2 separate regions of the Homo sapiens genome follow, and region 2 is linked to region 1. The links come from fine-mapping of genetic effects on gene expression. A gene starts in region 1. The other region holds a variant in brackets. All regions are shown on one strand. Distances are from middle to middle.

Region 1 (5,223 bases):
GTCCTCTCAACCCCGAGGAGGGTCCCTGCAGCCCTCCCAGCAGTGCCCGAAGCCAGCTCCATCCCGCACCACAGGCAACCTGCCCAACCCAGCCACCCACGTGGACTTGGCCTTGTCCAGGTCCCACGGGCGGCGCCAGTCACCCTGTGCGTCTCTGTGCCGGGCGAGGCGGGCTAGGTCGATCTGCTCCCGCTCCTGCTTCCACTGGGCATAGTCCCAGCCCGCCTCCGGGGGCTCCCCCACCGGCCGGCTCCAGGGCTCCCAAGAACCCTGTAGGGAGAAGACACTCAGAGTGAGGGGGAGAAGCAGGAAGAGGCTTGGGGTGGGGTTTGGAGACTCCAGGCGCTTCCTCTCTCAAGGTTTCCACATCTCCAGCTAAAAATTAGGCCTGTTCCAGCTCTCCCGTGGAAATGGTTTCCATCCACTTGTTAGCTGTGTGTTTTACATAAGTAATTTAACCTCTCTGTGTCTCATTTCCTCGTGTAAAATGGGGAGGATCTCCGTAGCACCAACCCACAGGGGTGTTGCAGGGGTATGCAGACGGGCCGGAGTGGGAGGGGCCCTGGAAGCTGTGAGCAAGGGCAAGGACTAGGGGCTGCTGCCACCTAGAGGTCACACCTGGCACTTGGCCAGTCAACTCCACCCTCCTGCCCCCTCCCCAACTCCCATGCCACCATCAGCAGGGCTAAATAGGGGAGGGGGCTGGATCACATCTTTGGCTTAAACTGTCTCCCACTTCAAGGCCCACCCAAAGTAGAGACTGGCCAGAGAAAGGGAGGAGGAGCAGGAACTCCTGCATGTGCTCCCTTGGCCACGTCCCCGCAAATGAGGGACATATCTGACTCAGCTTCTCTGCCTCCCCCAAGTGAGGACCTTCAGATCCATGTCCCCATCCCCTCTTGAAGACACACCTTCCGTGCAGAATCTGAGCTGATGGCCACCTGCGTGGGGGGGCTTCGGGTCACACGCCCTCCAGGTGACCCCTCTATGCCTTGGTTCCTTGCTCTGGTAGGCTTTTCACTTACAATCCGTTTGCCCTGGGGAGGATGAAGATGGGCAGTGCAGCAGAGCCAGGGAGGAAGAGGCTGCCTGCCGATGCCTGCACTCCCCACCACCCTGCTCACCTCTGCTTTGTTCTCCATGGTCACAGCCAGCTCCACCAGCTCCCCTAAGCAGAAAGTACCCCCGTGGTCCTCAGCATCCTCATCCTCAAGCATCTCGTTGGTCACTCTGGGTCCACAGGTACCCCTTGCCCAGTTCCTGCTAACCACCCGCTTTTCCTGCAGAACAAAGACCCTCAGGCCACATGGGCAGTGCTGGGCAGGACCTGGGTGCTGGGTCCTCTCGGTGGTTCCCCAGGCCTGGGTTCCAACCCCAGCCCTCCCTGCATTCCCCACAGAAGAGCTGACTCCCACAGGGTGTTCACATGCCAATGGCATGAGGTTATCCAGGGCCCAGGGCCACCCAGCGGCCCAAGATGCCACAGTGGCCCGTCATCTCTGAGCTGGGAAACCCAGAGCACTCAAACAATGGGTCTCTGTCCCTCAGACACTGCTCCTGGCATTCAGCCCCAACTTCTCTGTCCCCCACTTCCTGCAGGGTTTTAGCCCCTGGGGCTTGAGGTTTAGGAGTGGCCTGTGCTTTGTGGCATAGGCGCAGGGCTGTGGACTGGAAAAGGGTATGAAGATGCATCTACTGGGGGTAGGGGGGCTTTCAGCTGTGGCTCTTTGGTGGGGACAGCAGTGGTCCGACTGCAGGAGGTTGGGAGCTGGCAGGTGCACCCCAGAATAGTTAGTAGGAGAGGGGAACAGAGGCAGCTGTCTTTCCCCGACATGGTCTGGGCCTCCACCTCCTTGCTACGAGCCCTGTCTCCCAGGGTGAGGCTTACACCGGGAACCTGGCTGATGGTAACGGTGAGGCCATCAGGCTGGAGGAGTGCTGGTGTGGTCACAGCCATCCCCCCCTGCTCTGCCTGCCGACGGTCCTCCTGGATCTCCTGTGGGAGGGCTGGGGGTCAGCACACGCCATGGCCCCCCAGGTGCACAGAGACATAGATGCTGATAGGCCTACACAGAGAGACACCAGTGGGACACCAGGGGGCAGAGGCGCCACATCACACATCCCCAGGACCCTCACCAAGCCTCTAAGAGGGACCATGCCCACCCTACCCCTGGCCCCAGCCCCAGAGGCGCATTGCTGAGCCTGCAGGGAGACCACCACGTGTGGGGCACAGGGAGCGGCAGCCAAGTGGTTTCTCCTGGCCCTGTGGCAGCCCACTCACCTGGTACCTGCGGAGCAAGGCCTGGTTCTTCTTGCGCAGGGCAACTATCCTCCGATCCAGCTCTGCGTCCTTCTCCTGCCTGCTCATGGGGGACTCGGCTCTGGGAGTTCCCTGCAGAGGCAGGGAACCCAAGCTCCTGACTTCCGGGTCCCCCTCTCACCAGTCCCCAGCTTTCACATTTTCACCACCCAAGGAAGAGATCCCAGACCCACAGCTAAGGTCACCCAGGAAGGAAGGGGATTGCTTAGGGAGATGGCCCAAATAAGGCCCCAAGCCCCCATTCCAGCTAGGCCCGTCTGCCTGTCCCTGCCTCCTCAGGGGGCTCAGGTCAGGGCCTCATACCCCAAGCCACAGCTCCCAGCAGTGGGGTGCCCCTCCCCCAGCTCTCCAGGGAGCTTCACTGCCGAGCAGAGCCTGGAATGGGAGTTATAAATGGCTCTGGCAGCGGAACCTGCCGTGACTGGGAAGCTGCCAGGGGATTCGGGAGGTCGAGGGGGGAGCTGTTTGGCTCCCAGATCCACAACCAGAGAAAAAGGAGAGGCCCTGGCTCCGTCCTGGGCTCTCAGGCCCTGGACCCCGCACCTAGGCCTGTGCCCAGCCTGGAGGAAAGAGCCGCTCCCAGGGGCCCAGCCTCTCCAGGCCGAAAGCTGCTGGTAGTCGGGGCGGAGAGAGCCAGCTCCCCTGGCGGCCCCAGCCCAGGAGTCACCCTGGGCAAGCCATGTCTCTGCATCAAGATTCCAGGTTCCTCTCTGTCTGGATGCAGGTTCTCTGTTGTGACCCTAGTCACAGCCTTCTTCCTCCCAGCCCCAGCTGTCCCCAGCTGCCCCCAGAGGGTGGCTGCCTGGTATCCCAGCCCCCTCCCAGTCCCAAGAAGCCCCCTGCCAAAGGCAGACTGCCACTCACAGCCGAGTGCATGGCAACGGCGGGCACCGAGAGAATTCCAGAGCAGCCCCTGGGGAGCCAGAGTGGGAGGAAAGCTGGAGCCACCGGAGCCGGGCCTCTGCCGGCCTCTCCCTGCCGGCTTCGCTGCTCAGCACACGAGATCATGTTGTGATTACAAAAGACTCCTCTGGGCTCCCAGCCAGGAACGTCGGGCCGCCACCCCCACCCTTCCACTCTCAGAGGGCGAGGACCAGGGCACTGGCAGCTGGCTGGTCCTGCCTAGCACCTCTCCCTGCCCCACCCCAGCGTCCCCAGACAGACTGGTAGGGACTTCTCCCTGGTGGGTCAAGCCTACACAGGAGGCCTGGCTGCCTAGGCCCCAGCAGGACCCCAGCCTGGGCCTGCCTGCAGACAAGATGGGCAGCCAGCGTAGGCCTCTGTGCCTCCCATGAGTAGAAAAAGGCCTACAGCACACAGATGCGCCTGCCCTCTCCTGCTCCTTCTCCTCATCAGCCTTGGTTTAAGTAATTCAAAGGGATCAAGAAGCTCACCTCCCCTAGACTACCAAGTACTACCACATCCCTAAAATGACAACAATAGTCATTCATTCTTTTAGGTTGGACATTGTCTTCTCTGTGCAGTCATGCACCATATAATGACGTTTCACTCAACAATGGACCACATATATGATGGTGGTCCCATAAGATTATAATGGAGCTACAAATTCCTATGGCTTAGTGACATTGTAGCCATTATAACATGGTAGCACAGGGCACTACTTATGTGCTTATGGTGACGCTTGTGTAAACAGACCTACGGCATGACAGCCGCACAAAAGTATGGCACATACAAGTGTGCACAGTACAGAATACCTGATAATGATAATTAACAATTATGTTACTGGCTTATGTATTTACTATACTATACTTTTTATCATTATTTTAGAGTGTATTTCTTCTACTTACAACAACAACAAAAAAAAGTGAACTGTAAAACAGCCTCGGGCAGGTCCTTCAGGAGGAAATCCAGAAGGCATTGTTAGCATAGGAGATGACAGCTGCAGGCCTGTTAATGCCCCTGAAGACCTTCCAGTGGGTCAATATGTGGAATGGAAGACAGTGATGTTGATGATTCTGACTCTGTGTAGGCCTAGGCTAATGTGTGTGTGTTAGATTTTGAGAAAAAAGTTTAAAAAGTTAAAAAAAAGAAAAAGTTTCAAAATAGCAAAAAAACTTATAGAATAAGGATATAAAGAGAAAATATTTTTGTACAGCTGTACAATGTGTTTTGTTTGTGTTTTAAGCTAAGGGTTATTACCAAGAGAGTCAAAAAGTTTTTTTAAATTAAAAAGTTTATAAAGTAAAAAGGTTACAGTAAGCTAAGGTTAATTTATTACTGAAGAAACAAAAATATATATTTTTTAATTTTTCATTTTTTGAGACAGTCTCACTCTGTCACCCAAGCCAGAGGTCAGTGACATGATCATGGCTCACTGCAGCCTCAACCTCCTGGGCTCAAGGGATCCCCCTGCCTCAGCCTCCTGAGTAGCTTGGACAACAGGCGCATGCCACCATGTCCAGGTAGTTTTAAAATTTTTTGTAGAGAGAACGTCTTGCTATGTTGCACAGGCTGGTCTTGAACACCTAGGCTCAAGTGATCCTCCTGCCTTGGCCTCCCAAAGTACTAGGATGACAGGCATGAGCCACCATGCCTGACCAAAAAATCATTCGTATAAATTTAGTCTAACGTAAGTGTACAGTGTTTATAAAATCTATAGTAGCAGACGGTAATGTCCTAGGCCTTCAGATTCACTCATCACTCACTCAGTGACTCACCAGAGCAACCTCCAGTCCTGCAGGCTTCATTCATGGTAAGTGCCCTATACAGGTGTGCCATTTTAAATCTTGTACACCATATTTTTACTATATCTTTTCTAAGTTTAGATATGTAAACACTTAGCACTGTGTTACAGCTGCCTACAGTATGCAGTACAGTAACCTGCTGTACAGGTTTGTAGCCTAGGAGCAATAGCTATACCATATAGCCTGGGTGTGTAGTAG
Region 2 (5,483 bases), 90 kb after region 1:
TGGATAGATAAGTGGGAATTTTCTTGAAGAAAAAAAGGTATTCCAGGCCCAGGAATATCTCAGCACAGGCAGTACCTCCGCTCCTCAAAGGTGGCCAGTGGATCAGTGGCGGAAGTACAGAGGGCTGCCCTTGCTGGCAGAAGAAGGAAGGAAGGAAGCAAGAAGACTAGGGCTACGCTCGCACTGGCAGAGAGAGACACAGCTCCAGATCCAGATCCATTCAGACACAGCTTGTGCCTTGTGCCCGTCCAGGAGCAAACATGGGTGAGCATGCACATGGACATGCATACGTCTGCACACACTTTCAGAGAGGCTGTCAGACACGCTGCAGGAGCAGAGGCAAGGAGCGTGAACACGCAGCTGCTTGTGGGAGATAAGCCCAGCGCTGGGGGCTGCCTGCCTGGCCTGCCTTGAGAGTCCCCTTGCACATCTGCCTGGGTTCCCAAGAGGCAACCTCTACAAAGACATGTGTTTTCAGGACAACCTGCCCCCTCCCGCAAAGTCTTTCTATTTACAGGAATAGAGTAGCAAAATCCCTTAGTTCATACTTGAGTCTTGTCTGATGCTGCAGGCTGGCCAGGGCTGGGCATACAGTGGGTCTCTTTACTTGTTGAAGTAGAATAGTTAAATGAAATTTACTATAAGATAAATTAAGATAACTTTACTATAAGATATATTAAGATTTAAAATAGGGGGAAAGAGGAACCTGAAATGAGAAAAGGGTAGTGAAGGAAGACTTGATGTCCTTCATAACTGGCCTGCATCCTGCCCAGCCCCTCCTTTCTTTCCAGAAGCCCACCAGTGGCCCAGAGTGGAAGGGTGGGAGTCAGACCAGTCCAAGGTTGCTAATTAAGACTGGACTGCCAGGCACGGTGGCTCATGCCTGTAATCCCAGCACTTTGGGAGGCTGAGGCGGGCAGATCACCTGAGGTCAGAAGTTTGAGACCAGCCTGGCCAACATGGTGAAACCCCGTCTTTACTAAAAATAAAAAAATTGGCTGGGTGTGGTGGCACGCACCTGTAATGCCAGCTACTCAGGAGGCTGAGGCAGGAGAATTGCTTGAACCTGGGAGACGGAGGTTGCAGTGAGCCGAGATTTGGCCACTGCACTCCAGCCTGGGTGACAGAGTGAGACTCCGTGTCAAAAAAAAAAAAAAAAAGACTGGACTGTTTGTGGGTTTTATATGACTGCTGCTTGAGACTGCTTGAGAGAGCTGAGATCTGCTCTCCCTTCCTAAGACTGCTTCCAAGGCCCGGAGCTGGCAGCAGTTCAGAATCACCACCTAGATATTGAGATCCAGCCAGTTCCAGGTCCTCTTGTACCTCTTCCCAGCCCCTCTCTCCCAGGTACCCCGGGCAAAGTATACTCTACGGTCCTTTGAGGCTGGAGAAGCAGGTGGTTGTGAAATAGGCTGGCCTTTGGGACCTCCCTCTCCCCTGGTACCCTCCCTCCCTAGGAGGCTGCTTGGCTCCAGAGTGAAGGAGCAAGTGGGGGCCCTCCATAGTCTTCTCCTTCCATGGCCAAGCCGCCCAGGTGCTTGGAACCTGGCCACACACATCCAGGTGCCCCATTCACTGGCCCTCCAGGCTGTCAGAGACCTTTGTATTGCAGTTTTTCTGCCCTCCCACCTGATCACCCACACCTCCAAGGGGGCTGCAACCTCCTGTTCGGGACTCCTGAGCCTGGAGAGAGGCTGTGGGGGGTGGGGCAAGAGCCCTGGAAGTGCCCCAGAATGTGGAGCCTGTTGCCAATAGGGGCAACAAGACAATCTCTCTGTAGGACTGACTGTGAGGCCTCCCCAAAGAAGGATCGGGCAGAGAAATGCAGGGTCCTCAGCCCTGCCTGGGACATCTGCAGCTGCCTCAGAGCTCACATTGTGTGGATCCCAACAGCATTTCCCTCAGTAATGAGGACCCAGCCCGGTCCCAATTCTGCATTCCCCTCATCCCCAAGGCTGGAAACTCCCTATGGCCACTCCTGTGGGCTCAGCCATCTTACACTACAAGCTCCTCTGATAAGTCCCATCCCTCCGCCCAGCCTGCCCACTCACCAGGAACAGCCATACAACTCATTTCCCTGCTGCCCCATGGAAACTTCATCTCTCTGTGCCTCAGAGGGTCTGCCAAGCCCCTGTGGCCCACCACTCCATCCCCTGCCAGTGGATGCTCTGGCATGGCCAGCGTCCTCACTTAGGCACCTGTCCCCCAGCTGGCACACCCCAGGATCAGCCCACACGAGTGACCTGCCCCCACATCCACCAATCCCCTGCTCAGTTAAGAACTGGCATTTGCTGAGGGACTGTTATGTCCCAGGGTGCCAGGGATTCAAAGACTAGTAACAGTACGGGGCCAAAAAAGTTTACGAGTTAGTTGGGGAGATAGACATAAAAACTATGAGACATCTCAATTACTCCAATTTTAATGTTACCCATTCTTTAAGACCCAGCATGAGCACTAACCCATCTACACGCCCACCTGTCTCTGGTTTGCTGCCGTATCCCCAGCACTTTGCACTTGGCTCAGTGGAGGCCCTCTCCCTCCAAATAAATACTTGCATAATGAATGCAAAGCAGGGGGCGGGGGCAGGCTGCAGGGAGGATAACTTCTTCGCCCTCCACCAACCTTATCTAGATGAAATCAGATTTAAATAAAACATCAAGGGCGGCCTTGGAGCTGGGAGGGCAGGAGTGGGCAGGGGGGA[A/G]TCTCAAGGCTTCGCCTTGAACTAAATTCTTCCATCTTTTTAGTGGCAGCTAAAAGAACAGAGTTCTGGGGCCGCAGCCTCTAGCTTCTCAGGGAAGCCATCTGGACTGCCGAAGCCAGAACTGTAACTTTTATGCCTCCAGATTTCAATGAGTCTTCCTTGTCAAACCCATAACCAATTGTTATCCAGTTGTTGAATGAATCAGGTCAGGACATTTTATAGTAAAAATATGTACAAGTCACAAAAAGTACAAATGTTGGTGATCACTCCTGAAAACAGGCAAACTGGGTCAGGATGGGTGTGTTTAAAGGTAGGGAGGCAGAGCCTGGCACGCAGTGTGGCTGCAAGAGGTAGTTTTCTAAGCTAATATGGAAGTCTAGCACTGTGGCCACCTGGCAGAGCAGTCAGGGTGCAGAGCCGCTGCGGCACAGGCAAAGGCTTGATTTCTCTGCCATTCATTCATCACTGAGTAGCTGTTACTGAGAACCTATCATGTGCAGGTACCCTGTGGGCCATGGAGAAACAGGAGGACCCAGGGAGACGCAGATGTGGTTTTCACCCTAGCCTAGCCGGGGAGGCAGATCTTAGCCAGGAATCACCGGCTTGCCAGGCTTGCTAGGAGGAGAGCATTGCAGGTTGCGGAGTGTGACTGAGCCCGAGAGATGAGATCAGAGGAGCCTCCTGGCTGGGGCGGCAACAATAGTCAGTTCCAGATTTGGATCTTTATGCTGAGTGTAAGCAGGAGTCACGGAAGGGTTTAAGCAGGAGAGTGCTATGAGGCAGTCTATTTTGGAAAGATCCCTCTGACTGGGGCAGAGTGGATGCGGGAGGCTGGGCTGTGGTTGATCACAGAGGTGGGAGGAGATTCGAGGCTGGAGACTCCAGTAAATGACAGGCTGTGGTGATGGATTAGCTATGGGTGGCGGCTTGGGAGGGAGAGGGAGGTGCCAAGGATGAGTCCAAGGTTCTTGACTCTTAAAACTGCCAGTGCACCCCACAGTGGAAACATTGGGAGAACACTGAGTTTGCTTGTAGTTGGAAGTTGGCTGAAGTGTATCTGATGTTCTTGAAAGACCATATTGATGTTTCAGTGTCAAAGAGAGTGCAGAAGGCAGGGAAAGGGTACTTTTGATAACGGCTTTGCCAAAGGAATATCTTTTTATAAAGAAATATGACAATCGACTTGCAACATTTTGCCCCCAATCTAACAGTGAGATGAATGTTGCTCACAGCAACTTCATGTGTAAAATTTGAATGAGTTGCTAACAGACATTTGGAAAACATAAGAGTAGAGAATTGTTTGGGGAAGCTTATTTAGGAAGAAGTGATGGAGAAATCATTAAAAGTGACAAGGCTGGGATGTAAACCCTGGCTCCACTATTATTACGCTTTTTTTTTTTTTGTCTTTTTTTTTCTTCCTTTTTGTGGAGAACGGGGTCTCGCTTTATTGCCCAGACAGGTCTCGAACTCCTGGGCTCAAGCTATCCTCCCACCTCTGCCTCCCTGAGACCTGGGATTACAGGTGTGAGCCACCGTGCCCAGCCGGCTCCACTATTATTAATGTGACCCTGGGAAGTTACCGAACCTCTCTATGCCTCAGTTTTCTCATTAGTAAAATGAGAATAATAACACTATCTATTTCATAAGACTGGCTGGGGATTAAGAGTATGTGTAGGCCGGGCGCAGTGGCTCACGCCTGTAATCCCAGCACTTTGGGAGGCCGAGGCAGGCAGATCACGAGGTCAGGAGACCGAGACCAGCCTGGCTAACATGGTGAAACCCCGTCTCTACTAAAAATACAAAAAATTAGCTGGGCACAGTGGCGGGCGCCTGTAGTCCCAGCTACTCGGGAGGCTGAGGCAGGAGAATGGTGTGAACTTGGAAGGCAGAGCTTGCAGTGAGCTGAGATCACGCCACTGCACTCCAGCCTGGGCTACAGAGCAAGACTCCATCTCAAAAAAAAAAAAAAGATTATGTGTAAAGAGCTTAACACAGTGCCTAACTCATGGAATCTCTCCAGGAACATTACCTATCACAGAATACACCCTGACAGAGGGAAGCAATGAAAAAGGCAATTGCTGATTTCCCATAATCCCTTTCAACAAAGAAGAGTTGTTGTCTATATAACTAAGTGTAATTTTTATAAATGCCCTTATTAGATTTTTAAATATAGTATAATATTCACAAATCAAGGGGAAAAATTGTCAGGCCTCTCATATCTAAGTCTTTTTTTTTTTTTTTTGAGATAGATTCTCACTCCATCACCCAGGTTGGAGTGCAATAGTTCCATCTTGGCTCACTGCAATCTCCACCCCCCAGGTTCAAGCGATTCTTATGCCTCAGCCTCCTGAGTAGCTGGAACTACAGATGCGTGTCACCACACCTGTAGAGACAGGGTTTTGCCACATTGGCCAGACTGGTCTTGAACTCCTGGCCTCAAGTGATCCGCCCACCTCGGCCCCCCAAAGTGCTGGAATTACAGGTGTGAGCCACTGCGCCTGGCCTATCATATCTAAGTCTTGATGTCACTTTTCCAGTTACTAATCATCTGGCCCAGTCTTGCTTAGGTCATACACTCTTTGATGTGCTCTTCAGTTTCTGAGGATCACGCCTCTGCTGGGTGGAGTAGCTTTCCTAGGTCAGAAGCAATGCTGTCTGCATGGCCTCCCAAGTCTTCTTGGTGCCTGCACAGTGCAGAGCACAGGTGGCACCATGGTTGGTTAACACCATACTTGTGGCCCAGACTGTAGTCCCCCCAGAGGGTGTCTGCTGGAAAGGGCTG

Evidence for each region. PIP is the estimated chance that this variant, and not a neighbour inherited with it, causes the effect.
Region 2: its variant is the best candidate, but not a certain one, in a credible set for the expression of CCDC9B in whole blood (TOPMed, PIP 0.67).

What each region holds. Positions count from the first base shown.
Region 1 is chr15:40,337,624-40,342,846 of GRCh38, forward strand. It overlaps CCDC9B (coiled-coil domain containing 9B), which reads right to left and starts at 3,316. Exons shown (of 11, transcript NM_207380.3): 1 at 3,185-3,316; 2 at 2,282-2,392; 3 at 1,889-1,996; 4 at 1,125-1,280; 5 at 912-1,037; 6 at 101-270. The coding sequence starts at 3,196. RefSeq lists an enhancer at 2,409-3,212.
Region 2 is chr15:40,427,039-40,432,521 of GRCh38, forward strand. It overlaps a transcript of IVD not described here. Among named protein-coding and RNA genes, the nearest start is that of BAHD1, 11 kb to the right of the region's middle. The variant A/G (reference allele first, on the strand shown) is at 2,702.